Linked DNA regions of Homo sapiens. The protein of the gene in region 4 interacts with the protein of the main gene of each other region in a pairwise test. Each region holds a gene or a part of one and is shown on either strand. Other genes may lie near its edges. The genes, in order: FAM3C, CNIH3, CMTM7 and TMPRSS2.

Region 1 (8,773 bases), on a different chromosome or scaffold from region 4:
CCACACCACGTATCAACTGAACCAACTTAAAAATCCATTTTTGTTGACCTTGCGTCTTTCAAAACTCATTTAACAATCACTTAACTGCAAGTAATGAATGATATGTTAGGTAGCACACCTGACACCATAACACTACCTTAGCAAGCCTTGTAGAGATTATGACGAAAATCAATTTAGAGATGTTCATATAACTTTCTGAATAGCACACAAAAATTTAACAAATGAATAAACAAAATGCAGTACGTATCAACGAAATGATATATATGTAATGTGGTGTATATGAATGGAATATAGAATGGAATATTACTCACCCTTAAAAAGGAATGAAGTACTGATACCTGCTGATTTAGAGGACGAACCTCTAAAACATGCTAAGTGAAAGAAGCCAGACACAAAAGAACACATATTGAATTATTCAATTTTTAGGAAAATCCAGAATAGATAAATTTATGGGGGCAGAAAGCAGATCAGTGGTTGCCGAGGATTGGCAGGGAGAAGGGAATGAACAACTGCTTAATGAATATGGGGTTTCCTTTTGGGGTGATGAAAATGTTTTAGAAACGTGACGGTTCATAACATCATGAACGTGCTAAATGCCACACTTTAAAATGGAAAATCTGGCTAGGCATAGGGGCTCATGTCTGTAATCCCAGAGCTTTGGGAGGCTGAGGTCGAAGGATCACCTGAGGGCAGATTTGGCCAGCCTGTGCAAAATAGTAAGATCCCGTCTTTTAAGAAAAAAAATTATAAAATTAGTCGTGTGTGGTGGCACATGCCTGTAAACCTAGCTACTCCACAGGCTAAGGTGGAGTTCAAGGCTACAGTGAGTTATGATCACACCACTGCACTCCAGTCTGCAGAACAGTGGGGTACCCTGTCTTTGTAAATAATTTAAAAATAAAATGAAAAATTCTGTTACAGGAATTTAATTTAAAAAAGAAAATTGGAAGAAAAAACTCACTGAAGTTAGAAAAATCATGAATAGCGGATTTTCAAAATTAGATTAAAAATAAGGGAAATATAAGAATAGCTTCAATCAAATGGAGCAGGCCAATGAAGAAGAAAAAGAATATTAATGGGTACACTGGAAAGACTTAGGGGTATTACAACACTTAATTTCCTCCTCTGAGAGGAAGTCAGCCGATTGTGTCTCAAAGAATTGCATTAAAAGAAAGTACAAAACCTTTTAAAAGTTCAAAGATTTTGGGAAATTACCTGGTTCAGTCTACTCAATCAGATTAAAAAGGACTGCATGATATTAAGTAATTTAGTCAATGCCACTCTTGAAATAACTAAATACAGAATCAATGCTTCAAATCCTGATCATCTGATCCCAAGAACAGAGACGCTTCTGGACTAAATTCAAGACAAACTTTTGCTATTATACCAAGGTCGCACAAAAATCTATCTAGCTCAGCGCTAACATAAAAATCTTTTGCTATTTGGGTCTTGCACCTTTCAGCTTTAAGAAATGGGCATAAAAATAAAAATAAAAAAGATTCCCTGCTTTAGAGAAAATAAAGTAGCTTTGTGAGTGCCCAGGCTGTCTTATTCATAGTATCCATGATATCTACAATTACTGGTACATGGTAGGCACTCCAGTATTTTTAAGAGTATAAAAATTTTTGAAAAATGAATCGTTCAAAACCTAAAATATATGGTGGAAAATATATGAGTCTTCTGATACCCCCTCAGGGAACATTACTTTTTGCCATTCCATAGCCTCTTAGCCTTTTGGCTGTCTTTTCCAATTTCCTTTTCCTTTTTAATGTATCTTCATAAATTATGAAAGATTAGTTGACAATGCTTAAGGCAGCAATCCACATTAAAAATCTGTAATTGTAATAAAACATCCATTAAGTTTATTTTTAAAGTCACTTTAAGCCAGTAGTGTCTTATTTTTACTCCCTTTTGAAACAGAAGCCCCTTACAATGAGGATTTTGAGGAACCTGTCCTGTGTCCCTCTTACAAAGTTCCCATTGGTAATTCAGAGAGGTCCTCAGGTTGAGAACTGCTGGACTGAACTCCTTTTATTGGCTCCAACTCTTCTTATTTCTTCCTATGAAGAAATGCTAGTCTTTATTGAGTTGAGAAAACATTACAAGAATCTGTGAAACAAAGCTTCTAATACCTGTATAAAACTGAAAACCTTGTGACTTTATTGGTAAACAGCCAAGAAACACAAGAGACTACTAGTAGCCTCTAGAAAGAGGTACAGGTCGATGAAGTGACCAAAACCGGATGCTGATTTGCTGATTCTGCCAATTTCTTGTTAAATGGCTTTCAGTAAGTGATTAACTTTTATTTTCTAAATTCAATAGAGATCTGCTGGTACTCTGTAAGATACTGTATGACTAATAGTAACGGTTCCCAAGACTTAAGAAAACGTAACTGCAAATTGGCCACAAGTCCAAGGGGTCGGGGCCTCTGCTATCAGCATTGACCTTTACTCTCGGGAGTTCATATTTCCATCTGTAAAACTAGAAAAGATAAAGGGACTTATTCACTGAGCTGTTGTGAGAATAAATGAGCACACGAAACCATTTGGCAGTGCCTAGTACACAGTAAGCAATCTAATATTATTTATGTCATTGTATCCATATATATATGGATACATACATATATATGGATACATGGATACATACATATATACGGATACATACATATATATGGATACATACATACATATATATGGATACATACATATATATGGATACATACATATATATGGATACATACATATATATGGATACATACATACATATATATATATGGATACATACACCTGGCTAATTTTTTTATTTTTTAGTAGAGACGAGGTTTCACCATGTTGGCCAAAAAGAAACAAAGGAAAAGTCCTATCAATTAGATAGCAGTTCTATATTACAGGCAATAATATTTTTTCTTAAAAAAAAAAAAGGTAGAGGATGATGGAAACCGCTCCTCCCACAAGTAAAACAGCTGGAGCTCTCAATCTCAAATTGCCAATCCGTCACTCACATATTCAGATCTAGGGCCACTAATCATCATCCGTGGTCCCGAGCTGTGAGAGCAGTAGCAAACAAATAGGAAGAAAAAGAAGAGACACCAAACATCAAAGGGCTGGATAGCTTGTAAAAAACCAAAAGTACCTCTAGTATAGGCGACACTAAAACTTTACAAGTGAGTCAAAACGGCCCCCTATGGAGTTGGAATGCAACACCCAACTCCGTCCCCACCTCTCGGAGCTCTCAGCCTACACGCTGCAGGGGCGCGAGCCACAGCCAACCTGGGGAAGATGCGACCCAGGTGCCCGCCCCAGGCCGGGGCGCCGAGTGCCAGCGCCAGGTGCAGACGCCGCCCCGTCTCCGCGGAGCCCGGGGATGCCCACGCCGGGGCGGCGGCCGGGAACCCCGGCCAGCGGCTCTCCGGGACCCCAGTCCCGCCTGCGCCCTCTCCAACGTCCGGACACGCCGTGACAACGCGGCCGGGCCCGGGGCCCGCCCCCGGCCGGTGACCGCAGTGCGCGGAGGCTGAAGTCGTAGGTGGGCGTCTGGCTTCCCCGGCCTCCTCCATCCCTCCCCGAACCTGAGCCCCGGCTCCGTCCGCCTCCCAGCCGTCTCACCGGCCTCCCGCCCGCCTCTCCGCCGCGCGCGCCCGCCTTCCGGCCTCCCAGCGCTCAGTCCTGCCGGAGGCCGACGGGAGCCGCCGCCTCCAGCTCGCGCCTCCGCTTCCTCTCGGACTCCTCCGGCTGCCCCTCACCCCGGCAAGTGGCCAGGAGAAAGCCAGCTCGCCGCTGGGCCTCCTCCCACGCTTCCCGGCCGCGACCAATGGGCCCCCGCCGCCGGGAAGCCGCGCCCGCCCCCTGGCGGTGGAGGACCAAGCGGGCGCCCGGGCCGGCCAGAGGGAAGGGCCGGAGAGCGGAGGGAGGGGTCTGCGGTCCCGCCCACCGCCCCCGGCCAGGCGCTGCACAATCTGAACTTGCCACGTGGGAGCTGCCGCCGCCGCAGCGGCCCTGCGCCGGGTGGCACTACGGGAGGGAGAAAAATGTGTCACCGCCGTCTCCCCACCGTTTACACGCACAAAATCCCAGCCTCAAGGGCAGAACATTTTAAATGACCCACCCATCCTAGAGATGCGCCAGTTAGGTCATCTTATATATCTTGAGATAGCTGAGATGGTCAGATCAACCAAGGACCTTGGGTTATTTGCCGTTTGACTTCTTGAACCCTAGGAAACTGATTCTGAAAATCCTACTGTCCAGCGTCATTAGAATTCTGATCACCTTTAATGCACCACCCAAGAAGAACAGTAGTCCTTGCATTTTCCAAGTCACGTTTATTTTTTAAATTATAAGATACACAATCGTTAGAAATATTTTTTCTCAGGAGATTTCCTACAATTGTGTTGATAATTGGGAAGTTAATCCAAATCTTACTACATAAGACCTTAGAATGCAAAATTATTTCATAATTCAGATCCATATTCTAAAATAATGAATAACTGTTACCTAGTATTTGACAGAATATTGGGATCATCAGTGGTTGCAGAAATTAAATTGCATTTAAAAATAGGGTTTGACTATAGTGTGTTAATATAGAATTAATAATCTACCAAATTTTAGCTTTCCTCCAAAAATATAAAACACACAAACTAATAGTAACTATGAATTCTGGAGTTTGTGATCCGTGATCAGGGGAGAAAGCATGAAATGAATTCTCATTGTCTTCCATGTGCCAATATTATGCTATTTGTGTATTACTTAAATCAAAAAACTAAGACTCCAAAACTGAGTTTAAATATCTTGCTCAAAAATACAAGATAGTAAGTTATGAAGCTGGAATTCCGGCCTAGCTTCATGTAGCTCCAAATAAACAAAAAGGCACTTTGCTTATTATAGTACCAAAAAATCATAACACTTACTGTACACATGCCTCTCCTAGACTGCTATGTCTCACTGAAAGAGTTTATGAAGCCTCTTGAGTAGGGAGGTCACGGTGTATTTCTGAAAGAGCAATCTGCTCTGTAACCGAGCCAACCAGATTGGAAATTACATGTGACATATTCTTATAGCACCACACCTGAAACAATTCCTGTGCATAAAGTTTAATGTGTTAGTAGCCTATTCTCCACTGACCATAAGATATAGCTTAGAACCCTTTGGTAGGTAATGAAATTAATAACAATGGGTCACAACCAACATTTTGTTGCTGTTGATTCACTGAAAAATAGAAAAAAAAAACAGTTCAAAGCATAAATTCAGGATAAGTATTCTTCATGAAACATTTGTACAGCATCATGTGTGGGTGAGTGTCTGTGTGTCTATGTCCTGGATACAGTAGAAATTATATTTCTTAATATGGGTTTCAATTTTTTTAACATTGGTAAATCACTTCTTTAGGACTCCTGTTAATCAGCCAGTTCTTACACCTATAAACGAGTAAGGATAACTTCCTACTTTTACTTGGCAGGAGGTAGGGGAGCCAGGAGAAGTATTCAGGATTAATGATTAAGCTTAATAAAACCACAGAGCTTTACAGCTCCAGGAGGTATAAGCCAAAGGTGTTGGCTATTACAATAACTACCGATAATTTATATTATATAATAATAGCTACTGATAATGTATATTTCTAAAGCTGATATTTATTGTGTGCTTATTGTGCACCAGGCACTTTTCTAAGCACTTTATATATATAGACTTATTTAATTCTCACAATAATCCTATAAATACAGCGGAGAAAAGTGAAACTTGCTCAAGGTCCTTCTGCTATGACCAGACAGAGCTAAGATTCAAACTCACGTGCTCAACTTCAAAGCCCAACTTTTTTGTTGACTCGAAAAGAATATACAGAGAGTGTGACATCCAGCTTCTGAGTGTCATCCTTCATAGCACAAGCAACAAAAGAGAGGATTAAATATGGATGATGTTGAGAAAGGCAAGAAGATTTGTATTCAGAAGTGTGCCCAGTGCCACACTGTGGAAAAGGCAGGCAAGCACAGGACTGGGCCTAATCTCCATGGTCTCTTCGGATGGAAGACAGGTCAAGCCGTTGGATTATTTTACACAGATGCCATTAAGAACAAAGGCATCACCTGGGGAGAGGATACACTGATGGAGTATTTGGAGAATCCCAAGAAGCACATCTCTGGAACAAAGTGATCTTTGCCAGCATTAAGAAGAAGGCAGAAAGAGCAGACTTGATAGCTTATCTCAAAAAAGCTACTAATGAATAATAATTGGCCACTGCCTTATTTATTACAAAACAGAAATGTCTTATGACTTTTTTATGTGTACCATAATTTAATAGACCTCACACACCAGAATTCAGATCATGAATAACTGACAGAATATTTTGTTGGGCAGTCCTGATGTAAAACTAAGACTGGCTTGCAGTTAAATGAATATGTTCAGTTTTTTTGAATTTTAATAGTAATCCAATTCAGTAAATGCTATCACTGTTTACCCTTTCTAAAGACATGATTTGATTAGACTTTGTTAGTAATGTTCAGCTTTTCACAAAGATGGTGAATGCCATCTTAAAACATATTGGAGATTGGTTTTATATTTGGATTTATATAACTGGTTATGTGAATATATTTAAATACTGGAGAAATTCCTTCACTATCTCAGAACCAAGCAAGATTCACCTGTGTTTTGTGTTCATTTGCCTCTTAAAGGCAAGGGTTGAAGATAAGGTAGCAATGTCTACTTTATATTTTTGGCCTTAACTATGTCAATCTAATTAGAATTCCCTGTATTTAAAATAGTTCCTTTTACTTATTGAAAGGCATTTTAGTGTGGTGTATGTGTAATATCAAATAAAGATTATTTAACACTTCTCACATTTTATAGATGATCTGTAAGATAATATGCTTTTAAAATAGTAGCAAGTTAAACTTCACTCTTGAATTATTTACAATCTAAGTCAAACTAAGTTATAATTTAGGATTGTCTTTAAACAGCCATTCAGAGGCTGGGCGTGGTAGATCATGAGGTCAGGAGATTGAGACCATCCTGGCTAACACGGTGAAACTCGTCTCTACTAAAAATACAAAAAATTAGCCGGGCGTAGTGGCGGGCACCTGTAGTCCCAGCTACTGGGGAGGCTGAGGCAGGAGAATGACGTGAACCCGGGAGGCAGAGCTTGCAGTGAGCTGAGATCGCACCACTGCACTCCAGCCTGGGCCACAGAGTGAGACTCTGTCTCAAAAAAAAAAAAAAAAAAGCCATTCAGAAACAGAAAATCGTAGAACTGCTGTGTATTTGTGATTGGGAATGGTGCTTTTGCCAACTTAAAATGATTAAAGTAGAGGAGATATACACAAATTTTAAAATTATATGTGATCATAAGGCTTAAAAACAAAACCACAAATCATGATTAAAAGAAAGGAATGTTCATTCTCTCAATAGGTGCCATATTTTATATAAAACTATAACCTGCTTTATATTACTGTAACTATATAAGAATATATAAAAAATGTATATATAAGAATTAGATAATATTGTTAAATACAAAATTTCCAAAAAGCCTCAGAATTTTAATTGCACCCACCCTCAAGAAGAAGAGTCCACTTGGTATCATTTTTCTGTATATGGAGTAGTAAATTATAGGCAAATATGGCTACCAACAATTCCCCCATTCCTGTAAGTTCATGCCACTTTGTTTTTTACCATCAAGAGGTCAATCTATGTCCTCTTCTCTTGAACCTAGGCTGGCCCCGGGACTTATTCTGACCCATAGAATGCATGGAGGAGATCTTATGTGACTTATGGGCTTAGACCCTAAGAGACCTTGCAGCTTCCATTTTCACTAGCTTCAGGATCTAGTCACCATATAGGAAACTCAGACAACTACTGAATAATGAGAAACTACATGCAGAGAGAGGCCTAGCTCTCTCTCTCCATCCACACCATCCCAACCACTTCCCCAAGGCACCAGCTATATGAGTAAAGTCGTGTTGCATGTTCTAGCTCCAGCTAAGCTCCTACCTGAGTATATCACATGAGTAACTCCAGACAGTACCACATGGAGCATAACTGCCCAGCTTAGACCAACAAACCCACAGAAACTTGAGAAATAACATACTTAAAAAAATTTACTAAGTATTGTGGTAGTTTGTTACACAGCAATAAATAACTGAATCAGGGAAGAAAACATTTGTAGGGGGAAAAGAGTTGACCAACTCTGGGGGTAGGATTACTTTAAAATATTCAAGCATGTTTATATTGGATTATAAACTCAAACCTGTGGCAAGATGGCCAGAAACTTGCCTAGCTTCTAAAGAATATAGCAGAAGAGAGAGAAAAAGAGAGGTAAAATAATAAAACTGAAAGTAAACGTGTCAAATTTTATACCTATACAGGTTAAAATACCACATCTAAGTGTCATTTGAAAATTATTATTCAGAGTTTTTATAAAAATGTGAATTTAAAACCCTTAAACTTCATCCTTGCCTGTAAGGGCAAAATAGTACAGTTCAAAAAGCTGGAGTGCGCACAGATTTCATGGCACTGTATTTGATACATTAGCAACACAGCCTATAAAATGTGGTTTAATTTACTATGAAACATGGAGGATACAGTAGAATGGCATTACAGCAAATGTATCTTTGCACAAAAAAGACTCTAAGTTTTTAATCTATTACTTTTCTAGTAACATACAAGAAAATTCTAGATACCATAAAAATTTGAATTTTTAAATGAATTGAATAAAAAATAAATATTCAAATAAATTTGACTTTTGATTTCACTGCATAGGGGATTCTAGTTTGGATTTGATGTTTTAATAGGTC
Region 2 (8,458 bases), on a different chromosome or scaffold from region 4:
TTTCATTTATACAGAGAAAGGTAATCCTTTGGATATAAATTATTATCTAAGTTATGAATCCAAAAATAGTGACTACAGTTAGAGAAAGGGCTTAGGCTTAAGAGTCTCACAGACCTAGCTCAAGTCCATGCATACCAGCTCCAATACATATCAGCTGTGCAACCTTAGGCAACCTTGTAATCTCTCTGATCCAGTTTCCTCATCTGCGAAATGTCCGTTATGAGGACTAAAGGGCTGCCTGGGCAGTAAGAGGCCAGGTGCCTGAGGGTATGCAAAGCCACAGAAAAAACCTAGTTTTCTTCTGCTTCTTCCAAATGTGATAAATGTACTCAGAGATAGTAGCTGATATAAAATAAATGGGTAACTTGAAATATTTTCAACTGAAAACAAATGCAGATAAATTTTCAAAGTAAAAAACAAGACTTGAAAGAAAGGCTGGCCACATCCATCCTTGCTCCCAGACATCCAGTGGGAAAAAAGGGGAGGAAAACGATTGGACTGAGAGATCCTCTGTAAAGTACTTAAAACTTGTCCTACAGCAGACACCCAATACATAGTAGCTACCATCATTACCCCTAAGTAGGTACGTACAATTCAATAAGAAAAGCACGCCATCTTCATATCTTACAGCCTAGGCATGGCAGCATGGCAGGCATTTTAACCGCTATATGTTGTTAAGCGCCCAATTCATTTTTTGGGGTACTGATATATATCACACAATCAATATGCCTTGTCCGATCAAGAAGTACATAAGTAATATAAGAAGCTGGAAAGAAGGCAAACAGTCTAACATAAAACCAAGTCTCCTCAATTTTGGTTGAAATAATTACTACCATGTAACTAACACCCAGACATACAAACCGTGCCCTGAAATCAGGGTGTCTCTGGTTTCCCAGTTCAATGTTCAGGAACCAAATCAGTGTGATGGGGTTTGGGTTGTTTGATTTGGAGAGAGGGAAAGGGATAGAGAAGGAAAAGACTAGGAAAGGAGGGACTGAGACTATGAAATTATTACCGTAATTTGAAATCAAAACGCACAAATTCTTTTCATTATTAGAAACAAGAATCTTGCCACTTCCACGAGGAATCTGGATAAAACCTGAGTTGGAATTTGACTGCATTTCAGCCACCCCTCGATAAGGGGGTGAGCATTGAGAAGCTGGAGGATAGAGCCAGTGCTGGATGAGGGAACACCTGATTTTCATTCAAATGTCAACCAGCTGCACAAACCACTCAATGAAGCTGTTCTTGAATTATTAATCATCTTTCCCTGAATGAGAGAAAATGATTCTTTCTGGTTACTTGCTCTGCTTCAGGGACCAATTCAGAGAACTCCAAGCCAGACTCGAGTTTGAGGGAGCTCTCTGGTACCTGACACCCTCTGGCCAAGGCAAAAACAGAAAACAGCAAATGAAGTATTGCAGAAGAAAAGGGAGTAGTTGGCCTTCTAGAATCCAAGTAACTCCCCATATCCAAAGAAGCTGAGAAAGTTCCTTTAAAGCACATTAGCAGAGGTTTGCTGCACTGCTTGGGCATGATCTAATCTGTATTCCTTTCTATTCTAAATCAGGTAAGTTTCCTTTTCCCTTAAGAACTGTCAACAACTTCAAGCCTCAATTTTCTACTATAGATTAGACCCAGCCTTGCAGAGCAGAGAAGGGAGGGTTTAAAATCCCATTACTTCTAAATAGCGGAATTGTTTTAATCATCCCCCAAATATCTATGTTTGGATTCCCTGTCACCCCCAGATTCCTAAGTCTACTGATGCACGGATTTACACAATCTGAGAAATGGGGGAAAGCTTAGCGACTATCCAGGTCAATTTTCTCACTTTAGAGATGTGGAAGGAAGCCAGCAAGGGTCTTTCCTAAGGTTACATGATCGGAAGCCACCTTCCTCCCCGAGTTTCCCCTCTCCTCTCTGTCAGAGCCCTGTAGCAGGAGCTGCTCTAGCTGCTTAGTTCTATTTTAAGACAAACTCTCACTCTGCAAACCACTTATAGAAAACAAGGGCATCTCACCCACCCTGCAATTTTCTCCACGTCTTCATTTTGGGTCATCCCCACTGTATGAGAGTCTGTGATGCTCACCAGAACCATGCCTCCAAGAATTCGTCTCAGGGTCCTTCTCTGTCACCTAGACGCTGGGCAGGGCAAGGCTGTTAAAGGTGGGAAATTATGCACTGGGGTGCTCCTTCTAAACATTTGGCCTTGGCCATTCTTCCCACCAGCCCTCTGAGGGTGAGGATAGGGGGCTTAAACAACCTCAGAGAAGGAAGCCTTGAGAGTTGCATGCACTCGCTAAATGTTGCACAGTCTTTGAGAGGACCGGCGTACGCACTCCTGCGCGCTCTCTCAGTACTTCTCTTCCCCTATTCAGAAGCTTGCGCTCCTCTATTCCCACCCACACCTAAAGAACTGGGATCCACGGCTGCCCTCCACCTGGCGTAGCCCCGGGAAGGGTGACAGGAAGCTTGTGTGGGCTGGGGACGCTGGGGGCCTAGCGGAGGTTCGCCACCTGCAGGGGGTCTTCAGGAGTCGGACTTCAGACGCCAAGAGGGCAGATGGAGGACACCGTCGTCGCTCTCCACGGTCTCTCTTCGTGACTTTCCTCCATGGCCTTAATGATGCCTGCCCTTCCCAGTCTCCCTCGCCTCCTTGCTCTTCTCCTTCTCGCCTTTCCCCCACCGCCTTCCACTTCGACCCCCATCGCCTGGTCTCCTTCCTCTCCGTGGGCTCGGCTTCTCCCTACCTCTTACAAGGCGCTCCCGTCGTGTTTCCACTTTGTCTCCAATTATATCTAAATGCAACCCACCACAGATGCTGACATTTTAAATGTTTAGTTATTATAGCTACTTGACTAATTGCCGGGACCGACGGCGGCGCTTCTCCTTCGCCTCCCGCCGGCAGGAGAGGACGGGGCGGGAGAGGAAGGGGTTAGTTGTGGTTGTAGCCGCCACTCCCCGGCGCCCGGGACCCGGGACGCCCAGTCGGGCCCTGCAGAGGGTGTCCTACCTGGGCACCAGCGGCCCCTCGCCTCCAGCCAGGGCACCGAAGGCGCGCCCGGCGGGATGCAGCGAACTGCCTCCTGCCCCGGGACAGTGGAGCGGCAGAAGGTCCAACCTTCCGGTTCGCCCACGCCCGCAAGGTGGAAAAAGTGGGGTGAAATCGGGGAAATTTAGCGAAATTGGGGCGAAAGAAGAGAGACCAAAGCGTGTTACTCACGTGCCAGATGGCGAAGAAGATGAGCGCAGCGCACAGCACCAGAGACAGCATGTAGCAGAACGCAGCGAAAGTGAAGGCCATGGCCGGCGGACCCCAATCCCACCACACACGCCAAGAAGCCCCTAGGAGCCCGATGCCTCCCTAGAGGACCGCACTCCCTCCAAGGAGCCGCGTCTGCACGCTCCTCTCCAGGCTAGTGCCCAGGAGGGCGCACAGCTAGCGAAGCGACTCGAGGGTCAGCGAATAAGCGCTGGATTCCCGCAGGCTCCGGCGACCCCAGACCCGGCCCTCCGGCGAAGACAGGAAAACGTGTGTCGAGAGTCGCTGGAGGGAACCGTCCGCAAATCGAAGAAGAAACCAAATCAGCAGCGAACACCTGCAAATTAGTGCCAAGCTGTGAGCCCCTCGAGACCAACACGACAAGCGATGCGACGACTCCACGGAGGACCGAGGGAGGAGGTCCCATTCGCCCCAGGAAGAGCTCTCTGCTTTTCTCCACTAAACCGCTGAGGAGAGACGAGCGCTCCGCTCCGGACCCTCCCGCGCCACCGGGGCGCAAACGGATAGTGTCCAGCGAGGTGCCCGAGCGGCCTCCGAGCTCCTCCCAAATCCCAGAGCCGGGCAGCGCTCTTTCCCGAGAGAAGGAGTCTTTAGGTAGCCGGGAGGAGGTAGGTCCCGTTGGTCCTGCGCCCCAGACGCGGCTTCCAGCGCAGCCGTGCGCTCCGAGGCGCGCCCGTCCCCAACCGTGACTCCGGCCAGCCGGCCTCCGCAACCCAAGTGTCCCGGAAACCGGGGGTCGGACCGGGGCGAGCACTGGCTCCACCCAACGGGCCAACTCCAGCCCGGGTGGCTGCAGCAGTGGGTTTCAGGCCAAACGCTGTAGCTCGCTCCACCTGCTGCTGCCGCTGCCGCCGCCGCCGCCGCCGCCTTTGCCACTGCGAGAACTGTAGCGGTGCGACCCGGGATTCCCTCCTCTCGGCGCCCCACCCTCGACTCCTGTTCCGCTGAGCGCGCCCTCCCCGGCGGGCGGAGACTGCAGCGCCGGGGGCTGAGGAAAGGTGGGTGGCGAAGCGCCGCCGGGCGCTTGGTGGCCGCTGCCGCCGCCACTGCAGCTGTGCACGCCCGCCTCTCGGAGGAAACTTGAAGCCAGCAGTACAAGCAGGGCTGGAGGCCGAGCGGAGGTGGGGCGGGACCGGTTGGAGCAGGGACTCTTTAAACACGTGCGTCTGGAGGAGGTGGGAAGCTGCGGAAGGGTATGGTGTGTGCCTCGCGCCTAAACGCCGCAGCCGCCCCTCCCGGTTCTTGCAGTTTCGCCTATCGGAGTGGGAAGTGTGGGGACTTGGGGCGTTGCCTAGTGTTGGTTGGGGATACAGTGCAAGCCTTGGATCCCAAAGCTGCTTGGATGGATTTTACCAAACTGTAGCATACTCAGTGCTTAGGGCTGCGTTTACTGCTCTGCTCCCAGACCCTGCAAAATTCTCCATTAACGTCCTTCCGTTGCATCCTCTACCCTCCCCAGCCATCCGACCTTGGGACTAGGGAAACGTGGACTTGGTGGGCTATTCTGCGCTGAAGAGGCAGCAACGAGGGCTCGGTGGTATTGGTGTTGGTCCTAGTGGAATTGTCAAGAGGATGCTTTTGAAGGTAGACCGTTTTCTAGCTGCAAGTTACCTAACCTCTTTAATCCTTAGTTTCCTTATCAGAAAAACATAAATAAGAGTAGAGTCAAGCCATTTCAAAGGATTAAAAGGGAACATAAGTAAAAAACCTAGCACTTGGTATACGTTCAATAAGTGGTAGGGATTATTAATTGCACCCTTTCCCCCAGTGGCCCAGCATCTTGGAAGTTCACCATGCTTGCTTTGCAAGAGATTCCTGACGCTGCAGTGAAAGAGGTCCAGTCATTCCAGAGAGAACTTCAGTTTCAGACAAGTCATCAAATCCAGAAAGCAAGGAAAAATACCCTGAAAGACGACTGGCAAATCTCGGTGAAAGAGTAGACGCACTTCATGGATTGGAGTGAATCTTAGAGCACCTGGTACCTTGCACAGGGTGGGAACTAGATAAATAACTATTGCTTGATTCTGACTCTGGTGTGCTAGTTTTCCTGTTCACAGATGTGATTCCAATGCCTTGAGAGCTGGAAGGGATGAATTCCAGCAAGATAGAGATACAGCTTTCTAGTGACAGAACTGGAATCCTGTCTGCGGACTCCTAATCCTGGGCTCTTTCTACTATGCCCCAACATTCCTGCAGCTATTTGGCCACATCTTTTACTTATTTATTTATTTATTTATTTATTTATTTATTTATTTATTTGACGGAGTCTCACTTTGTCGCCAGGCTGGAGTGCAGTGGCGTGATCTCTGCAACCTCCACCTCCCTGGTTCAAGCGATTCTCCTGCCTTAGCCTCCCGAGTAGCTGGGACTACAGGCACGCACCACCACGCCCAGCTAATCTTTGTATTTTTAGTAAAGACGGGGTTTCACCATGTTGGCCAAGATGGTCTCGATCTCTTGACCTCGTGATCTACCCACCTCGGCCTCCCAAAGTGCTGGGATTACAGGCGTGAGCCACCGCTCCAGGCCCTTCAATTTATTTTATTTTATTTTTTTGAAGACAGTCTTGCTGTGTTGCCCAGGCTGGAGTGCAGTGGTGCTATCATAGCTCACTGTAGCCTCAAACTCCTTGCTAGGACTACAGGCATGCACCACCACACCCAGATAATTTTTGTTTTGTTTTGTTTGCAGACATAGGTCTCAATATATGGCCAGGCTGGTCCCAAACTCCTGGCCTCAAGCAGTCTTCCAGCCTTGGCCTCCCAAAGCGCTGGGATTATAGGTGTGCACCACAGTGCCTGGCCTCATATCTCCCTCCAGTTTAGAAACTAGATGCCTTTCAGTGAGAAGTGGAGAAATTAGAGCAAATCCAGAGGCTGATGACCAGAGCAATGAACCGATCTACATTTTATTGCCTCTGGGTCAGGACCGGCTACATACTTTGGAGGGCCAAGTGCAAAATGAAAATGTGGGACTTTGTATTAGGCCGTTCTTGCATTGCTATAAAGAAATACCTGGCCAGGCATGGTGGTTTATGCCTGTAATCCCAGTACTTGGGGAGGTCGAGGTGGGCAGATCACCTGAGCTTAGGTATTTGAGACCAGCCTGGACAACATGGCAGAAACCCCATCTCTACAAAAAATACAAAAATTAGCCGGGTGTGGTGGCATGCACCTGTAGTCCCAGCTTCTTGCAGGGCTAAGGTGAGAGTGTTGCTTGAGCCCAGGAGGTCAAGGGTGCAGTGAGCTGTGTTCATACCACTGCACTCCAGCCTAGGCAATAGAGCCAGACCCTGTCTCAAAAAAAAAAAACAAAAACCTGAGGCTGGGTACTTTATAAAGAAAACAGGTTCAATTGGCTCACCGTTCTGCAGGCTGTACAAGCACGGCACCAGCATTTGCTCGGCTTCGGGGGAGGCCTCAGGGTTGCTTTTATTCATGGTAGAAGGTGAAGCAGGAGCAGGCATGTCACATGGCAAAAGCAAGAGCAAGAGAGTGTTGTGGAGAAGTGCCACACACGTGTAAATAACCAGATCTTGTGAGAACACTCTCTTTATTGCGAGGACAGCACCAAGCCATGAGGGATCCACCCCCATGACCCAGACACCTCCCACCAGGCCCCACCTCCAACACTGGGGATGACATTTCAACATGAGATTTGGGCAGGGACAAATAACCCAAACTATATCAAGCTTCTTGATTAAAAATTAATAATTTCAAGACAGCAACAGCAGAACATTAAGCCAAGCATGAGGCCCTTCTGAGCACAAGACCCTGGACAGCTGTAGAAGTTGAATGCCTACAAATCTAGCCCTGCTCTGGGTTATACCCTATGTTGCTTTCTCTTTTACAGAAGTATTTCTTCCAGTATAAATTGTCATTAAAGAAAATTTGGAGGTCAGGCACTGTGGCTCATGCCTGTAATCTCAGCACTTTGGGAGGCTGAGGCGGGTGGATCACTTGAGGTCAGGAGTTCGCGATCATCTTGGGCAACATAATTAAGACCCGGTCTCTACAAAAATGAAAATAAAATTAGCCAGGCATGGTGGTGCACACCTGTAGTCTCAGCTACTCAGGAGGCTGAGGCCAGAGGATTGCTTGAGCCCAAGAGGTCAAGGCACAGTGAGCTGTGATCATGCCACTGCACCCCACCTCGGGTGACAAAGCGAGAGCCTGTCTCAAAAATATAAAATAATTTGGAAAATATAAAAATGAAAAAGATAAACACCACAGTTTGCTGCTCTCAGATACCACCAACACAATCCTGGTGTATTTCTTTCTAGCTGTTTTTTTGCTTTTTATTTTATATAGATCATTTCTTTTCATTGTAGTAATTGTACTGTATAAAATTTCGTGACACCAAAATTCTGAGTCCCTTTGGGACCTCTCTGATCTTTTGTTTCTGCTGGTTCTTGTTTACGGAGTCCTCGCTTCTTATCCATCTAGTAGATTTTTACTGTGCCAAACTTGTTTTGAAAAGTTTTCTTACAGTCATTTGAGGCCTAAAATTATGTTATCTTTCTCCAGGGAGGATTTTCAACTTCTTTTGCCAGGTATCTAGGGGAACCTAGTGCTCCAGGATTACCTTAATCCAAATTCAGCATTTGAGATTTTCCAGGATGACCAAGATAACTGTGGTCTGTGTGAGGGCTGCTTTATTTCTGGTTCAGCCTTACTCACATGGAGCTGTCCTTCTGGATCCCAAGTCAAAACACAGGGCTTATCAAGTCCCAACCCTTGATGGTCCTTGGACTCTGACTTTTGCCCCTAGCGCCACAGAGTACTAAAGGCATAGCTCAGTCTCCTCCTCAAGATTAAGAAATGCCCCTAAAAGCATACCTCAGCCACCTCCTCAAGATTAAGAAATGCCCCTAGAAAAAAAAACTGGCCCCAAGAGCTAAACCAACCCCTCTAGATTCTGAATCACTCTCAGCTTTTGACCCCAGTAATTCCGTACTCTCTTATTAGGTCTTTGATGCTTTCAAGAAGATGTTACTGTATTTCATTCAGCTTTATAAGTTGTGCTCAGTGGGAGAACCGGTCTGAATTCACTAGCACAGCATCACCAGAACCAAGAGTCTCTACATCAAAATAAAATTTCAAATTTAAAAATGGAATCCATTATCCTACCACTGTGACTTTCAAGTCTCCATCCAGCCACTGTTTTTCTTGCCAT
Region 3 (6,751 bases), on a different chromosome or scaffold from region 4:
TCACAAATACTGCAATGCACACACACCACTGGGACTCGGTTATGATGCAGATGATTCTATTTTAGTTGGTCTTTGTGGGGCTGGGATCCTGCAATTCTAACCAGCTGCCAGGTGATATCCACTTTGTGGACAAGGCTTAGGAATTCCTGGCTCTCATTTCAGACCTATTGCATCTCAATTTCTTGGAGGAAGGCTGGTCGGCTTCCCCAGGCCGTGCTGCACTGTGATGAGTTAATGCCTGGGTTTAGGGGCTGGTCCTCCATGGGGCAGCTGAATGGCACTGCCCCCCGGCTTAGATATTCACTCCCTAGGGTTGAAGCTGTGTCCAGGAGGAGTGAGTCACCATAGGGAAACCAGAGGGTCTCCTTCTCCCTACTGTCAACAGCATCCTCAATTGCCAATGGAGAGCCAGCTGTGTGCAGAGGTTGCCAAGATGACTGGGGCTCAAAGGTGCTGGCCCTGCTTCTAGAACGTACCTGAGTGGCTGGGGCGCCACTGGGGCTAAAAGAACTGGAGAAGCAGAGGATCTGAAGGTCATTGTCATACTTCAAAAGTGAAAAGCCAGTGTCCCCTTCACCAGGTTAGACGAGGTTAGTGGGCCTCTGGCAGGGAGGACCCCCACGACTCAGCTCAGAGCCGGCTGCTGGGGATGCGTTCACCCACCCAGTTCCCTACAGGTGTTTCATCATGCCCTCTGTCCACCATGGGTCCCAGCGCCCGGCTGAAAACTGCCCTCAGCTTCCAATCTTGACTTTAACAAAATTTAAGGTCCAGGAAACTGAAAGTAAATTATGTTCTCCAGCTCCCTTGCACCCAGGTGATTCGATCACTTTTGCAACATTAACCTGCTCATTTCCTGTCATTCTGGTACCTCTCTGGGGATTAAGATTAGAAAGATAACGATAAGTAAGCACGCTGCTCTGTTACTGAATTCCAAGGAGGTCACAGACAGGCCAGGATGGGCTTATTCTCTCCGTTATACAAAGGGGGAACTAAGGTTCAGCAAGATGACCCGTGCCAAGTCGGGGGCTAGTCAATGGCAGAGCTGGGCTCAACCCCACGTCTGCGGCTCCCAGCCTGACTGTCTTTCCACCATCCTTAGCTCTTTGCTTAAACATTTACTCCCTGGTGCTGGAGATGTGGCCATTTAGAAGGGATGGTTTTACCAGACAGTTTTTGGGAGGTCACAGAAACCCCAGTTTCTAAAAAGGCCCTGTGGTCTCAAACAGCCACCCCTCAGCCAAGCCACTGGCTGCATGGTCCACTGCTCGCTGTCTGTGGAGGCCTCACTTGGCTCTGCGTTTTGCTTTCCTTCCTCACTGAGCAGACTCTGGCTCCTGCTACTATTCCTCCAACTGTCCTCCACCCACCTTTGCCCTCCTAGGGGGATGCTCAAATGGTCAAACCCGGATCCTCGTTGCTTGGCGAGGCCTGCATTGTCACTACACAGGCAGGGGGCTCCCAGACCCAATGCCTCACCTGGACCGTGCCCTCCTCAGCTGAGACTCCTCCATTCCATTGCCCTGGAGGAGCCGACTGTGCCAGGGTCAGCTCAGCCATGTTCCCGCTCCAGCCCAGCTGGTACACAGGATCCCCTCCCATCAGCAGCACTCGGCTCCAGATACACCACGGGTGCTGCTTCCTTAGATCATCCCAGACAGAACCCGATGCCCCGAGCTGGCCAGCAGCCACAAGAGTAGCCCCAGAGCTCCAGCTCAAAGCCCACAGGGGCTGCTTCCATTTCCGGCAACACTCAGCAGAGGCAAGGATGGGGCTGGGAGTCAGGCAGACCTAGATCCTGAGCCCAGCTCCTCACTGGCTTGCCCTGTGCCTGGGGATGGAGCCCCGATTTCATTTCTAAAAATGTGGTCCTATAACCTGCCCCCTTGCAGTCACTACCATCGCTATTAGATGTGGTTGTGAATGTAGGTCCTTGCACACGGGGTTGCTCAAACATTGTTCCATCCCTCCTTTTTCTAGCCAACTGAGCAGCTCAAGATCAGCGAAACAGCACATTTAGGCCGAGATCATTAATCATCATAGTGTAAACACAACCCTTAGCTTGCTCTAAAGCTCTTTCCAAAATGAGAAGATTGGTATTGCAGGAGAAGGAGGACGTGAATATAATTGAGAACCTGCACATGTTTACCTAAAACTCTGCCCTGCTATACTATCCCCCAAGATGGAGAGAAAACCTGAAGTCCAGCAGTTCAGCAAGGGGCACACACAGAGCACGGGTGGAGGGCCATGGGCCAGACACAAGCTCGAATGGAAACTGTTTCAGGCCAGGTTTTACAGCCTTCATCTGGTTCAATAAGAAATCCTTGTGCAACTGGCCGAGTCAATATTTTATTAAAAAACACACAAACACATGCACACTGGTAACAAAGGCAGAGATGGAGAGGAGACACAAGATCTCCTTGGGGACAGGCTGACCACATAGTGTTTCTACAGGCACGCCTCACTTCAGGAAAGAGGGTATCTCTAAGACCGGACTGACAAGCTAGATAAATTAGGACAGGGCTTTGTTTCTTAAGGCACTTCACTCCCCTGAGGAGTGAAGTAGAAGGGATTTAGGCGGGAGTATTCACAAACCCCTTCAGCTGTGCTAAGTGGGGTTCATCAGTACCTGAGGTGGTTCTAGAAGCAGGAAGGCAGAAAACATTTCCCTGGAGGCTGCTTTCCTTTCCCAGAATGGGAGGGATGTTCTCCCCGGAAGGCTGGAGGAAGAGTTTCCGGCTGGCTCAGGAGCTCAGGGAGCTGGCTTCCTGGGAGAGCAGGAAGAGGGTGCAGGCCTTTCCTGGTGCCCACCAGCCTGACAGGACTTTGGCACAGGAACACAGGTCCAGAGGCCTCGCCTGGAGTACACGTCCTCCTCTCTGCAAAGCTCCTGAGGGGCCTAGGGGTTGTGGCCTCATCAGACGGCTGCATCTTGGGAAGGAAATGGCAGTCAGGACAGCTTGCCAGGGATGTGGCCCACCCACAAGCCACACTCCACAGGTTTGACTCCAAGTTCTGCTCAGGGGGGCACCTGTGTCCTCCACCCAGTGCCGACTTGCACTGAGATTATTCCATTTTTTAAAAATACATTTCCAAACAAGGAAAAAACTTCGGTAGTGCAGAGGTGACTCCCATCCGCACTCCCCCGACCTCAGTCTTACTCCTCAGCAGCAACCTCCCAAGCCTTTTAGCCATTTCTTTTGGTGATTCTTCCATAATTCAAAAAACCAATTTATACCAATATTTATAGATTTATCCTGTTAGACACCACCTATTAACTTCTCTTTTCCCCTATATTCTCTACGTTTAAAAATCATTCTTTTTTTTCTTAAACAGCTTTACTGGGATATTTTAATAATTCACATACCATACAATTCTCCCATCTAAAGTGTTTTTCAGTATATTCACAGGACTGTGCAACCACAATTTTAGAGCCTTTTCATCACCTCAAAAAGAAGCCTCATCCTCATTAGCAGTCACACCTGAGTCCTCTCCCAGCAGCCCCAGGCCGCCATGGGTCTACCTTGTGTCTCTATGAATCTGCCTGCTCTAGACGATTCTTATTAGTGGAATCCTACACTACATGGGCTCAGTGTAGGATTCCATGAGTAATGCCCTCAAAGAGGAGGCAAGTTAAATAAACTGCACAGTCATGCGATGGACTTAATGCTGCAACCCACGGAGTTGCTAAGAATTCCTAATGATGTTGGGAAAATGTTTGGTCAGTGGCTAAGTAGGAGAAAAAACATATTATGAAACAGCACATGAAGTTTGATCCTTTTAATAAAAGCAACAGATATATATATTTTCAGAGAGAAAATATCGAAAGGATACTCAGTGCTACTTCTGGGTAGTGTGATGACAGATGGCTTTTTCTTATTTTATTTTATTTTTTAAGAGACGGAGTCTGACTATGTTGCTCAGATTGGTCTCAAACTCCTGGGCTCAGGTGATCCTCTTGCCTCAGCCACCTGAGTAGCTGGTACTATGGGTACACACCACTGTCCCTGGTTCAGACGGTTTCTATTAAACATATTTTTTATCTGTATTTTCTAAAAACCTACATTTTATTTTTGTCATTAGGAAACTTAAGAAAAAGCTGGCTGGGTGCGGTGGTTCATGTCTATAATCCCAGCACTTTCAGAGGCTGAGGTGGGAGGACTGCTTGAGCCCAGGAGTTTGAGACCAGCCTGGGCAACATGGTGAGACTCCAACTCTAAAAAAAAAAAAAAAAAAAAAAAAAAAAAAAAAATTGAAATTAGGCATGGTGGTGCACACCTGTAGTCCCAGGTACTCAGGAGGCTGAGGTTGGAGGATCACTTGAGCCTGGGAGGCGGAGGCTGCAGTGAGCTCTGATCGTACCACTGCACCAGCCTGGACAACAGGGCAAAACCCAATCTCAAAAAAAAAAAAAGAAAAGTAAAGAAAAAGAAAGAAAGGAAGCAAGAAAGAGAAAAAAGCTTGGCCACCCGAGGCTGAAATGTTAGGGCATCCTTGGATGTGTGGAGATGGGAATGTGAGGGGAGATTCTGGGGTCACATCTTCCCCTTTGCTGGCCCCTGTGCTCTAATACTACTTCTAAAGTCCCCTTGGAACACAGCCTTCTCAACAGCAGGGTTTGTCCCTATGGCTGAAGTCAAGAACAAGCCATCCCCCTGTTCCTGAGAGATCCTCTGTGCACAGATAACCAGAACTCACCTGTGGACTGGGTTACACACGAGATCTTATAGGACAGCCATATGCTTGCCATGCAGAGGAAGGTGGCCATGAAACCAAAGATCTGCAGTGGAGAGAGGGGAGAGGAAGTTCACAGGCCATAGGGCTAATTACTCGGGCAATCCTGTCTGCTTCTCATCTCTGTGCTTGTTCCCTTCATGTCTCTGGCCAGAAAGGAGCTTGGAGAGTCATCTAACCCAACCACCTCATCCTGGATCAGGTGCAGAGAGGAAGCCCCGCGAGGCCCAGCCACTGGCCCCAGTCCTCCAGGTTGGGCCAGGTCAGGGCTGGCAGCCAGGCCTCTCGGTCTTCACTCTTGGCAGCTTCAGTGCCTGGTCTGGGTTTACATTTACAAGCAAGCTGGGGCTAAGCCAATGGACTTTGATTATCCTGGACCAAAAGAGAAGAAAAGGATGAAATTTTAATTTGGGTTAAAAAAATCTGAACGTTCCCATGATTTGTGGTGTAGTGGCGTTGTTCGCATTTCATTTGTAATGACTTTCTGTTCCATTCTGGCTTCATAGCCGTATTAGAGCCAGAAGCCGAGGCCTTTACATCTAGGTTTACGTTTGTACATATTAAACAATATTAGACTCAACTAAGTCAAGGCAGCACCCTTTCCCTTTCTCAGGGTCATCCAGCGCTCAAGTGTGAGGAAGGCTGACCTAGCCCAGCCCCCTCACTTGTAGATGAGATTCGGGTGCTGGGAGACGAAGAGTGCCTGTGGGAGGCTCATCAAATGGTCGAGGAAGAGGCAGTAGCTTCTTCTGGAATCTCTGGGCTTTGAAGCCTGCAGCCATTTTCCTTGCTTGTGAACAACACCGGCAGCTGCAGTGGTGAAAACTTACTGACCACTTTACTACATCCCTACCAGGGTGTGAGGCCCTGTGGGTGTATTGATTCCTTTAACCCTCACAACTCTGCTGGGTGGGTGCTAGGATTACCCACCCTGCTCCTCCATTTCACAGCTAAAGAAACAGAGGTACAGGCGGTCATCTGTTTTGCCGAAGGCCACAGAGCCAGCAAGGGCCAGATATGGGATGGGAGCCCAGGGAGCCTGGCTCCAGAGTCCGCACTCTGCAGTACCGGGTGCCTAGGTGTTCTCAGACCCACACAAAGGCCTCCACTTCACTACACCGCCACTGGTGTCCAGTGAGAATGGCGCAGGGGCAGCTAAGGGTAGGATTTTCAACAAGGTTTGGTTTTCTTTTCAAGCCCAGATGCTGCTTTACATAAACAGCTGCCCCCACCAGCCCACATCCACTTCTTCCCCGGGTTTCTTTTCCTGGGCTCCTTTTGTACCAATTGTCTACAGCACATAATTAGCCTATTAGAGCCTGTCCCGGCCTCTCATTGTCTGTTCTGCACAATTAGCACGTTATATACCATCCCGGTCCCCAACTGTCTGCACTGCATAATTGAACAGTTTATTATATCGCTACAGAATGCTATTCTAGACTACAACGCCTTGTTTACTAATTGTTTCATGTGTCTTGTCTCCTAAGCTAGATGACCACTTTCTTATAAGCAGGGACCATATTTTAAAAATTTCTTCTAACTTCCTCATAGCCCAGGTTTGGTCCTAGGCACACAGACAGCATATGATGAATGTTAGCTATAGAGATTCCAGGGCTAAACAGTTATGTGCAACCTGAATTACTAAACACAGTGGGAATCTCCTCAAGTGGGCCCGGAAACACAGTGGGCACAGGTCTCCTGTGTGCCTCTTCCAGTACCCTGCACTGTAGCTGGGCAGGTGTTAAGCTTCAGGGGGCAACCATCCCTCTCTTCAGAGACAGCAGAGAGAGGGGGCAGAGAGGTGTGATGGTGGGCTGTGGGAGGGCCATGTGGAGCATCAGTGTTGGGAGGTTTGGCCACCCTCTACAGTGACCTTCTGCCCCCATGCTGACCTTCAGAGGAGAGACTCCATCCCTCAGTGGAATTCCAGGAGCCAACCCACTCCCAGGCCAAAGTCTGGAAAATTTTGGTAATATACGTAAGTGAAAGACAATGAATGTCACATACAGAGAGAGCT
Region 4 (7,929 bases):
TTTCATGGGCCAGGCCCAGGGTCCTTGTGCTGTATGCAGCCTAGAGACTTGATGCCCTGCATCCTAGCCACTCCAGCCATGGCTGAAAGGGGCCAAAATAGAGCTTGGGCTGTGGCTTCAGAGGTTGCAAGCCTTAAGCCTTGGCAGCTTCCATGTGATGTTGAGCCTGCCAGTGCACAGAAGTCAAGGATTGAGATTTGGGAACTTCTGCCTAGATTTCAGAAGATGTATGGAAACGCATAGATGCCCAGGCAGAAGTTTGCTGCAGGGTGGGGCCCTTATGGAGAACCTCTGCTAGGGCAGTGCAGAAGGGAAATGTGGGGTTGGAGCCCCTACACAGTCCCTACTGGGGCACTGCCTAGTGGAGCTGTGAGAAGAGGGCCACCATTCTCCAGACCCCAGAATGGTAGATCCACCAACAGCTTGCACCATGTGCCTGGAAAAGCTGCAGACCCTCAACACCAGCCCATGATGCAGCCAGGAAGGAAGCTATACCTTGCGAAGTCACAGAGGTGGAGCTGCCCCAGACCATGGGAACCCACCTCTTGCATCAGTGTGACCTGGATATGACAGATGGAGTCAAAGGAGGTCATTTTGGTGCTTTAAGATTTGACTGCCCTGCTGGATTTTGGACTTTTAAGGGGCCTGCAGCCCCTTTATTTTGGCCAATTTCTCCCATTTGGAATGGCTGTATTCACCCAATGCCTGTACCCCCGTTGTATCTAGGAAGTAATTAACTTGCTCTTGATTTCACAGGCTCATAGGTGGAAGCAACTTGCCTTGTGTTGGATGAGACTTTGGACTGTAGACTTTTGACTTAATGCTGAAATGAGTTAAGATTTTGGGGGACTGTTGGGAAGACCTGATTGGTTTTGAAATGTAAAGATACGAGATTTGGGGGGTGCAGGGGCAGAATGATATGGTTTGGCTCTGTGTCCCCACCCAAATCTCATCTTGTAGCTCCCATAATTCCCATGTGTTGTGGGAGGGACCTGATAGGAGATAATTGAATCATGGGGGTGGGTCTTTCCTGTGCTGTTTTTGTGATAGTGAATGGGTCTCACAAGATCTGATGGTTTAAAAAATGGGAGTTTCTGTGCACAAACTCTCTCCCTGCCTGCTGCCATCCATGTAAGATGTGATTTGCTCTTCCTTGCTTTCTGCCATGATTGTGAGGCCTCCCCAGCCATGTGGAATTGTAAATCCAATAAACTTCTTTCTTTTGTAAATTGCAGTCTTGGGTATGTCTTTATTAGGAGCATGGAAACAGACTAATAGAATAATAAGAAGGAGTCATTTGAGGGACCTCTCCAACAGGACAGGCTGCAGGAACTGAGGGCACCAACCACAGGAGCACCAAGTCTGGCCTTGCCTCACCTTTGGTCCTCTGACCAGCAGCCTCAACATCACCCCCTTATAAGGAAATGGAGGCTGGTCCTACTCACCAGGCAGAACTTCAAAGATGCAGTAGTTACTTTGAAAAAAAAATTGCATAATTTATTTGCATGATATTCATTTTCACAATTGAACTTTACAGTTTAAAAAAGATACAAAAAAAGACAAACAGTTGTTCACATAAATAAGAAGGGGCAATAAAGAAGGAAGACGTTTTCACCATTACAACACCTTTTAGGATGTGTCTTGGGGAGCAAGCACCTTACAGTGCCAACTGTTTCCAAGGTCCCTGGGAATGCTGCTCTCTACAGAGGCATGTGCACAGACAGATCCTGCAAATGGGATTGCATGACTTTCCATTTCAAGGTTAAGTCCTAGCTGTAGAATCATTCATTTCATTCTTGCAAACCAGCCTGCTTGGCCAGGAGGCAGAACCATGGTAGAGTAGTGCTCATGGTTATGGCACTTGGCAATGCAAAAGGGACCCTTCCCCTGGTTGGAAACCCACAGCATTGGAAGGGACCACAGAGAGTCCAAAACAAAACACATCTTTCTCTTCTTCGCCGCCACCATGGGCACTTTGCTTCAGCACATTCATTTATAGAACGTTAAGTCAGGAGCCAGTCATTTTGTCAAAGCAGCTGAAATAGGCCACCACTCTTACTTGGCAAAGATGATACAGTTTCAAAGAGTTAAATGAAGGTGGACTACTTGGAGACATCAAAAGCTAAGTTTCCAGGAGCACTGAGGTAGCAATGTGTAGAAACATAACATGGAAACAGTGTACCTTAAACTGAGCATCCTTGATTTCCCCCATGGACCTCAATTTCCAGTGACTAGCAGGCCTGAAGAGGCCAACATGGTGCCAGACTTGGCGCCCTGCCAGGACCAAGGGGCATGTGCACTCTCCAGGGTGCTAGGAGCAGGGTCAGGGAGGATGAGGAGGAAGGCTGAGTCTCCCTCCCAGGAGCCCCACCCAATGTGCAGGTGGAGACCTGCACCAGGAGTGCTCAGGGCAAGTTCCTTTTCAATTGCTTCCCTCGCACCAAGGGCACTGTCTATATTCTCACCCCATAAGAACAAAAATGTTTCTGTTCCCCTTACAAGTGACTACCACGTCACCACCCATGAAGGGCTGGTCCCTTTATTTCTGGCCACCATCCAGGGCTGCTAAGGCTCTAAGAACCCATCAGCAAAATCCCCTTGTGGAGAGGTAGGCTGGGGACACTACCAAGTGGCCCCAGAGGGCAGCCGCTGCAGGTGCCACCTGGCTGTCTCCCTTTCCATGTCTCTCCTTTTTCATCTCAAGTCATCCAGCAGCTGAGAGGTGACAGCTCCATGCTCATCCAAAATTGGCCCCTGGAAAGGACTCAGCAGGAAGATCTCAATGGGGCAGCCTCCACCCCTCTCCTCCACACTTGACCGCCAGTGCCCACAACCAGCCGGCCATCACCCCTTGCGGACAAGGGGTTAGGGAGAGCAGGCTGGGCAGGGGAGCCACTGCAGCCTGCACAGAATGGCAGAGAGTGCCAAAGCCAGACAAGTTCACTGTTTAATAAAAATGAAGTGACCTCTGAATCATCTCTAAGAGTAAATCATGCACGGGGAAGCAAAACCAGCCCCATTGTTTTCTTGTAAAACGACGTCAAGGACGAAGACCATGTGGATTAGCCGTCTGCCTGTTCAAATAGGAAAAAAAAAAGTGTGTTATTTTCTTAAGACAAACAAAGGTGGAAAATAATTTTTTCCTCTAGGTTCGCATGAAGCACTTAGAAACCAAATAAGCAAGCTTAATAGCACAAAGGGATCATTCTTCTCTCCAACGTGTTGGTCAGAGTCAGGCTGAGCATGGCGGGGCAGGAGCTCCGGAAGGAGCGGGCAGCGGATGTGGAGGCCGGCACAACAGGCATCTCTTCAGCAGAGTCTGGGCCTCCCCCGGCTGCTCTCCTGCCACGCAGCCCTTCCCTCCCTGCACAGCCATGCGGACCCACCTGCAGCCGCCAAACACACCTGGATCATTTCCTAGCTCCATCCTGGTGCGAGTCCGCCCCTCAGCCTGGCTGACCATCCCAGCCCTGCCAGCTTCCCTCCTGCCCTGCCTCCTCCTCCTGGGGTCATCTGTTTCTAGCACTGGGCCCTGGGCCAGGTGACGCCCCCTGGGCCCCATGGTCATGGGAAGGCCCTGAGTCCCGCGTGTCATTTGAAGGAGACACAGGTCGGGCCTCAGCGGGAAAGGCCCCCTGGTTCTGCTCCTCCTTCAACAGACTGGGCATCTGGGAGATTTGGGAGAAGACAGAATAGACTGCTTTCTTCCACTAGTAGCCCAGCCCCAGAAAGCACAGAAATCTGAGAAAACTATACGTCTGAGGTCCTGGAGATGAGAAGATCTGGTTCTCACCCCCTATCTGGACAATGCCCAAAGCCAGGGCTCTGCTAAGCAGAGACATCCATGAGGCTCACATGGAACCCCTGAGACCTTCCCTCGTGCTTGAGTCTGGGGCATCAGAGAACCCTGGCTGCTCCTGCCCTTCCTAACCTTGGGGGCTGCCCAGGAGCCACTCGATGGCCCCAGAAAAGGATGGGCACAGCCGGCTCTTCCCTCTGCTCTCTATAAATCAAAAGTTTCATGTGAGGCCGGGCACCGTGGTTCACACTTGTAATCCCAGCACTGTGGGAGGCTGAGGTGGGTGAATCACCTGAGGTCAGGGCTTCGAGACCAGCCTGGCCAACATGGAGAAACCCCATCTCTACTAAAAATACAAAAAGTAGCTGGGCGTGGTGGCGCATGCCTGTAGTCCCAGCTACTTGGGAGGCTGAGGCAGGAGAATCACTTGAACCCAGGAGGCAAAGGTTGCAGTGAGTCGAGATTGTGCCACTGCACTCCAGCCTGGGCGACACAGTGAGACTCCATCTCAAAAAAAAAAAAAAAAAGTTTGATGTGAGGTGGCCTGGGTGGAACAGCTGAGTCAGCTGAGCCAGAACGAAGTGTGGTTGGCAGAGCACCAAGGAATTTCACACAAGCTGAGCCCCAGCGCTTTTCATCCAAACACCAGGGGAAATATGCAAGTGAAGCCAGTGAGAGGCAATGGGCAATGGGTGGACACTGGGGGGATGGGGCTGTGGCTGGAGGAAGCAGAGTTTGCTTCATGCTGACCAGTGGTCACCAGTCAGCTTCCAGCAGCAGAACCACGCCTAACAGATGTCTGGCTTTGGCTCGAGGAATCGGAGAACACAGTCAGAAGGAGGACAGGATAGTTACCCTCATTTGTCGATAAATCCAGTCCGTGAATACCATCACATTCCCGTACACTCCTGGTCTGTAAGCTTTGGCACAGCCAGAACCCCAGCTTGTATCCCCTATCAGCCACCAGATATTGTTCTTCGAAGTGACCAGAGGCCCTCCACTGTCACCCTGTGGGACACAGCAAGGTACAGAGAGCAGAAAATCAAGTCACAATCTGCCGCACACCACTGACCAGGCCTAGAGGAGTTGGGGGGCGGGGGTCGCAGTGTGAGTTACGAGTGACTGTGTGGGCTTCGAATCTCCACCATCAAGGGGTGATGGTAACAGAGATGTAACCCCCAAAGAGATAGCCCCCATCCTGAATTTTAATCTGTTCAAGCTAAAAGTTACTAAATAAATTGCCGTTCATAATTTAAAATAGTCTAAATACTTGTTTCTGTTCCACTGGCACTTTTACCAAATACCGGTTTTTCAGAGGGTGTGTGTGATTTGTTGACTGTACTTCCTTCTGCCACCAGAAGCGTTCGCACTGTTTGTGGCCGTCACTTCCCATGACTGCCCCGAGCTGGCTCCGTGTCACTGAGGAGGCTCTGCTGACCCCAAGAATGCCCTCTCTCTCATGGGGGGTTCAGTAGGATCTGGTAAGGACCAAAGGTAGAATAAAAATGTTGAATTACCTGGCAAGAATCGACGTTCCCCTGCAGGAAGCCGGCACAGATCATGGCTGGTGTGATCAGGTTGTCATAGACATATCTGCTGTTGCATCTCTGTGTCTCAATGAGAAGCACCTTGGCAGCGTTCAGCACTTCTGAGGTCTTCCCTAAGGACAGGGAGACTTGTTGAGCTCCCAGTGTTGCCTGCAGCTCTCGCAGGGAGAGCACACTTCCCTCCCTGAGACCTCCACACGCACTACACAGATGGTCACAGCCCTATTTTCCAGCCCTGCCCCGGTCAGCTCATCCCAGCACCAACCCCTCTCCTGGGAAACCTGGATTCTCCTTACAACTGGCGGTGCCTGTGCTGAATGCAGCTCTGGAGTTCAGCTTCAGGGAAAGAAATTCCCAGCTCTGAAACTATAGGGCTCTATCAGTGCCATGGAATCCCCCTCTTATTCACCCAACGGCTTGGTTCTGCTGAACCAATTTCCCACTCCTCACTGAACCCCACCCAGGACACACAGGCGCCTGTTTCCCCTCTGGCATGCACACACTCTTCTGGAGCACACGTGACCCTCCCTAGGCCGCCTGCTTCTCGGCTCCCCTGCACATTAGAGCTTCTCAAGACACGGCCTGCACTTGCCACCTCTGCATTTCCCACTCTCGCTTTGCTGCCTCCCCTCGGGCATCTTCTGGGCACCGTGGGCTTAGTGTGCAAAACCAGAACCCTCCGTCACACCTTCTCCCACCCCAAATTCTCACCAACCAATATTTCCTGGCTTGAAAAATGGCACCACCCGCCACCCTGGGGCTTCAGCCACAGAGTGGAAAGCCATCGTCCCTGACTTCTCACTCTCTCTCCCACAGACATGCAACCCATCAGTAAGTCTGGTGGCTCTAGCCCTAGTGTACCCTCATCTCTTCACATCCACGCCCGCACTCTGCTATGAGCTGGCTTCCTGTCTCAAGGAACCACAGCAATGGACTTGTCACCATCATCCTCGTCTCCATCCATTCATCCCCACTCCCCACGCAGCTGCCAGATCATGGCACTCCCCGGCTCACGATCTCCCCACCTCAAGCAGATGAGAAGCTGGTGTCTTCACCATAATCCACAAGGACCTATGCAATCTGGCCCCAGCCCACCTCCTTGGCCCCTTGACCACACCTGAAGATACATGCACTAGCCTTTTTGATGTGTACACATTTTTGCCATTTGAGTCTCAGCTCAAATGCCACCTCTTCCGAGAAGCCTTTCCTGACCACCCCTTCAAAATAGCCGGGACCTTGTGATCCCCACCCTCAGATGTTTGGAAGTACCTCGCTCAGTTGTTTGTCTCCCATCTGTCTGACCACACCTGCCCCGTCCCCACCACCGACATCCAGAAGAGAGGTAAAGCTCCTGACAGCAGAGACATTTGTCTTACTCTGTTCACTTCTGCATTCCCAGCACCTGAGTAGCACCCAGCCTGTACTAGGTGCAGGTGCGCACAAATATTTGTCGATATTCCCTTCATCTTGGATTCCATGAGGTCTTTTGCCCAGCCTGTGGCTCTACTGTAGTAAGTTTCTGCTGATGAGGAGCCAGGATGCCCCCCACTACCTTCCCTGACGCTCCCCAGAAATCACCCAACCTTTGTACTTTTCCCCTTGTTTGAAAGGATTTGTTGTCTGTATGGCCTAGACGCTTTTGAGAAGGATATAAACAATATGTAAAATGAACCTTTGTGCCTGCCACTAAGCACTTCCAACCCTCCATAAAAATGAAGCAGCCAGGCTCCCTTCATTTGAAAGACTGTCAGAGAGAAATGCAGATTGCAAAGGAAGTGGGTGGAGAGAGCCTCTCTCTGTGGTTATCAGGGCAGAGGACAGGCTTAGATGTGGCCACCATGGGTCCAGGATGCCCGTCCTCACCAAGCCCCCTGTCACTCAGCCACGCAGGCCTTGGTGGGATCTCCAGGGCAGCTCTAAACTCACAATGAGTGCAACACAGGAGATCCTGCACCTCTAAACTCGTATGGCCCAGATACTTCAAAAGCCATTCCACATGCTGCTCTGTGTGATCACGATAAGAACACAGTGTATTAGGTAGGCTGGGCAGGATTTCTCCCACTTAGCAGATGGAGAAACTGAGGCACAAGGACTGGGGGAATCAACCAAAGTCATCCAGTCATTGAGTAGTAGAACTGGGATTAAAACCTGGACCTCCCACTTCCGAACCCAATGCTCCATCTGTGGGCCCTGCAGTCCTGTGTGCCCAGGAGCAGCCTCACCTTTCTCCTCGGTGGCCCCCCACCCGGAAATCCAGCAGAGCTGTTCTGGCTGCAGCATCATGCCTGGGTTGGGCAGACACACTGGTTTCACTAGGTCTGTTTCAAGAAGAGAAAACACAGTGAGCCAGGCGGGTATCACCTATGTCTCCACCTGGCCTTCCCACATGCAGGCTGCTGGGCCTGGCACCCTGGCCACCCTGCCCAGAGGACCCTGCATCCCAACAAGTCCCACATTCTCACTTTCTCCCCCTGCCAGACCTCTCCTTCTGGCAGGCAAGACGTTATGCTACTTATAAGTAGAATTATTTGCTAGCTCTGCTTATAAGAGGAATTATTTGCTAGCTCTGCTTCCAAAATTACA

The links.
Region 1: the proteins of TMPRSS2 (region 4) and FAM3C interact in binary tests that used the Homo sapiens proteins (3 or more experiments, as listed by UniProt).
Region 2: the proteins of TMPRSS2 (region 4) and CNIH3 interact in binary tests that used the Homo sapiens proteins (3 or more experiments, as listed by UniProt).
Region 3: the proteins of TMPRSS2 (region 4) and CMTM7 interact in binary tests that used the Homo sapiens proteins (3 or more experiments, as listed by UniProt).

The regions. Positions count from the first base shown.
Region 1 is NC_000007.14:121,392,557-121,401,329, forward strand, and holds the start of FAM3C (protein FAM3C precursor), read right to left. Parts: upstream 3,753-8,773; 5' UTR 3,606-3,752; exon of another isoform or gene 3,569-3,605; intron 3,466-3,568; exon of another isoform or gene 3,133-3,465; intron 2,916-3,132; exon of another isoform or gene 2,394-2,915; intron 372-2,393; exon of another isoform or gene 312-371; intron 1-311. UniProt on the Homo sapiens protein: May be involved in retinal laminar formation. Promotes epithelial to mesenchymal transition.
Region 2 is NC_000001.11:224,612,021-224,620,478, reverse strand, and holds the start of CNIH3 (protein cornichon homolog 3), read right to left. Parts: upstream 4,163-8,458; 5' UTR 3,305-4,162; coding exon 3,224-3,304; intron 1-3,223. UniProt on the Homo sapiens protein: Regulates the trafficking and gating properties of AMPA-selective glutamate receptors (AMPARs).
Region 3 is NC_000003.12:32,450,421-32,457,171, reverse strand, and holds the end of CMTM7 (CKLF-like MARVEL transmembrane domain-containing protein 7), read right to left. Parts: intron 4,781-6,751; coding exon 4,699-4,780; intron 2,932-4,698; coding exon 2,918-2,931; 3' UTR 1,644-2,917; downstream 1-1,643.
Region 4 is NC_000021.9:41,463,080-41,471,008, forward strand, and holds the end of TMPRSS2 (transmembrane protease serine 2), read right to left. Parts: intron 7,665-7,929; coding exon 7,569-7,664; intron 5,460-7,568; coding exon 5,317-5,459; intron 4,808-5,316; coding exon 4,655-4,807; intron 3,075-4,654; coding exon 3,063-3,074; coding exon of another isoform or gene 3,041-3,062; 3' UTR 1,226-3,040; downstream 1-1,225. UniProt on the Homo sapiens protein: Plasma membrane-anchored serine protease that cleaves at arginine residues. Participates in proteolytic cascades of relevance for the normal physiologic function of the prostate.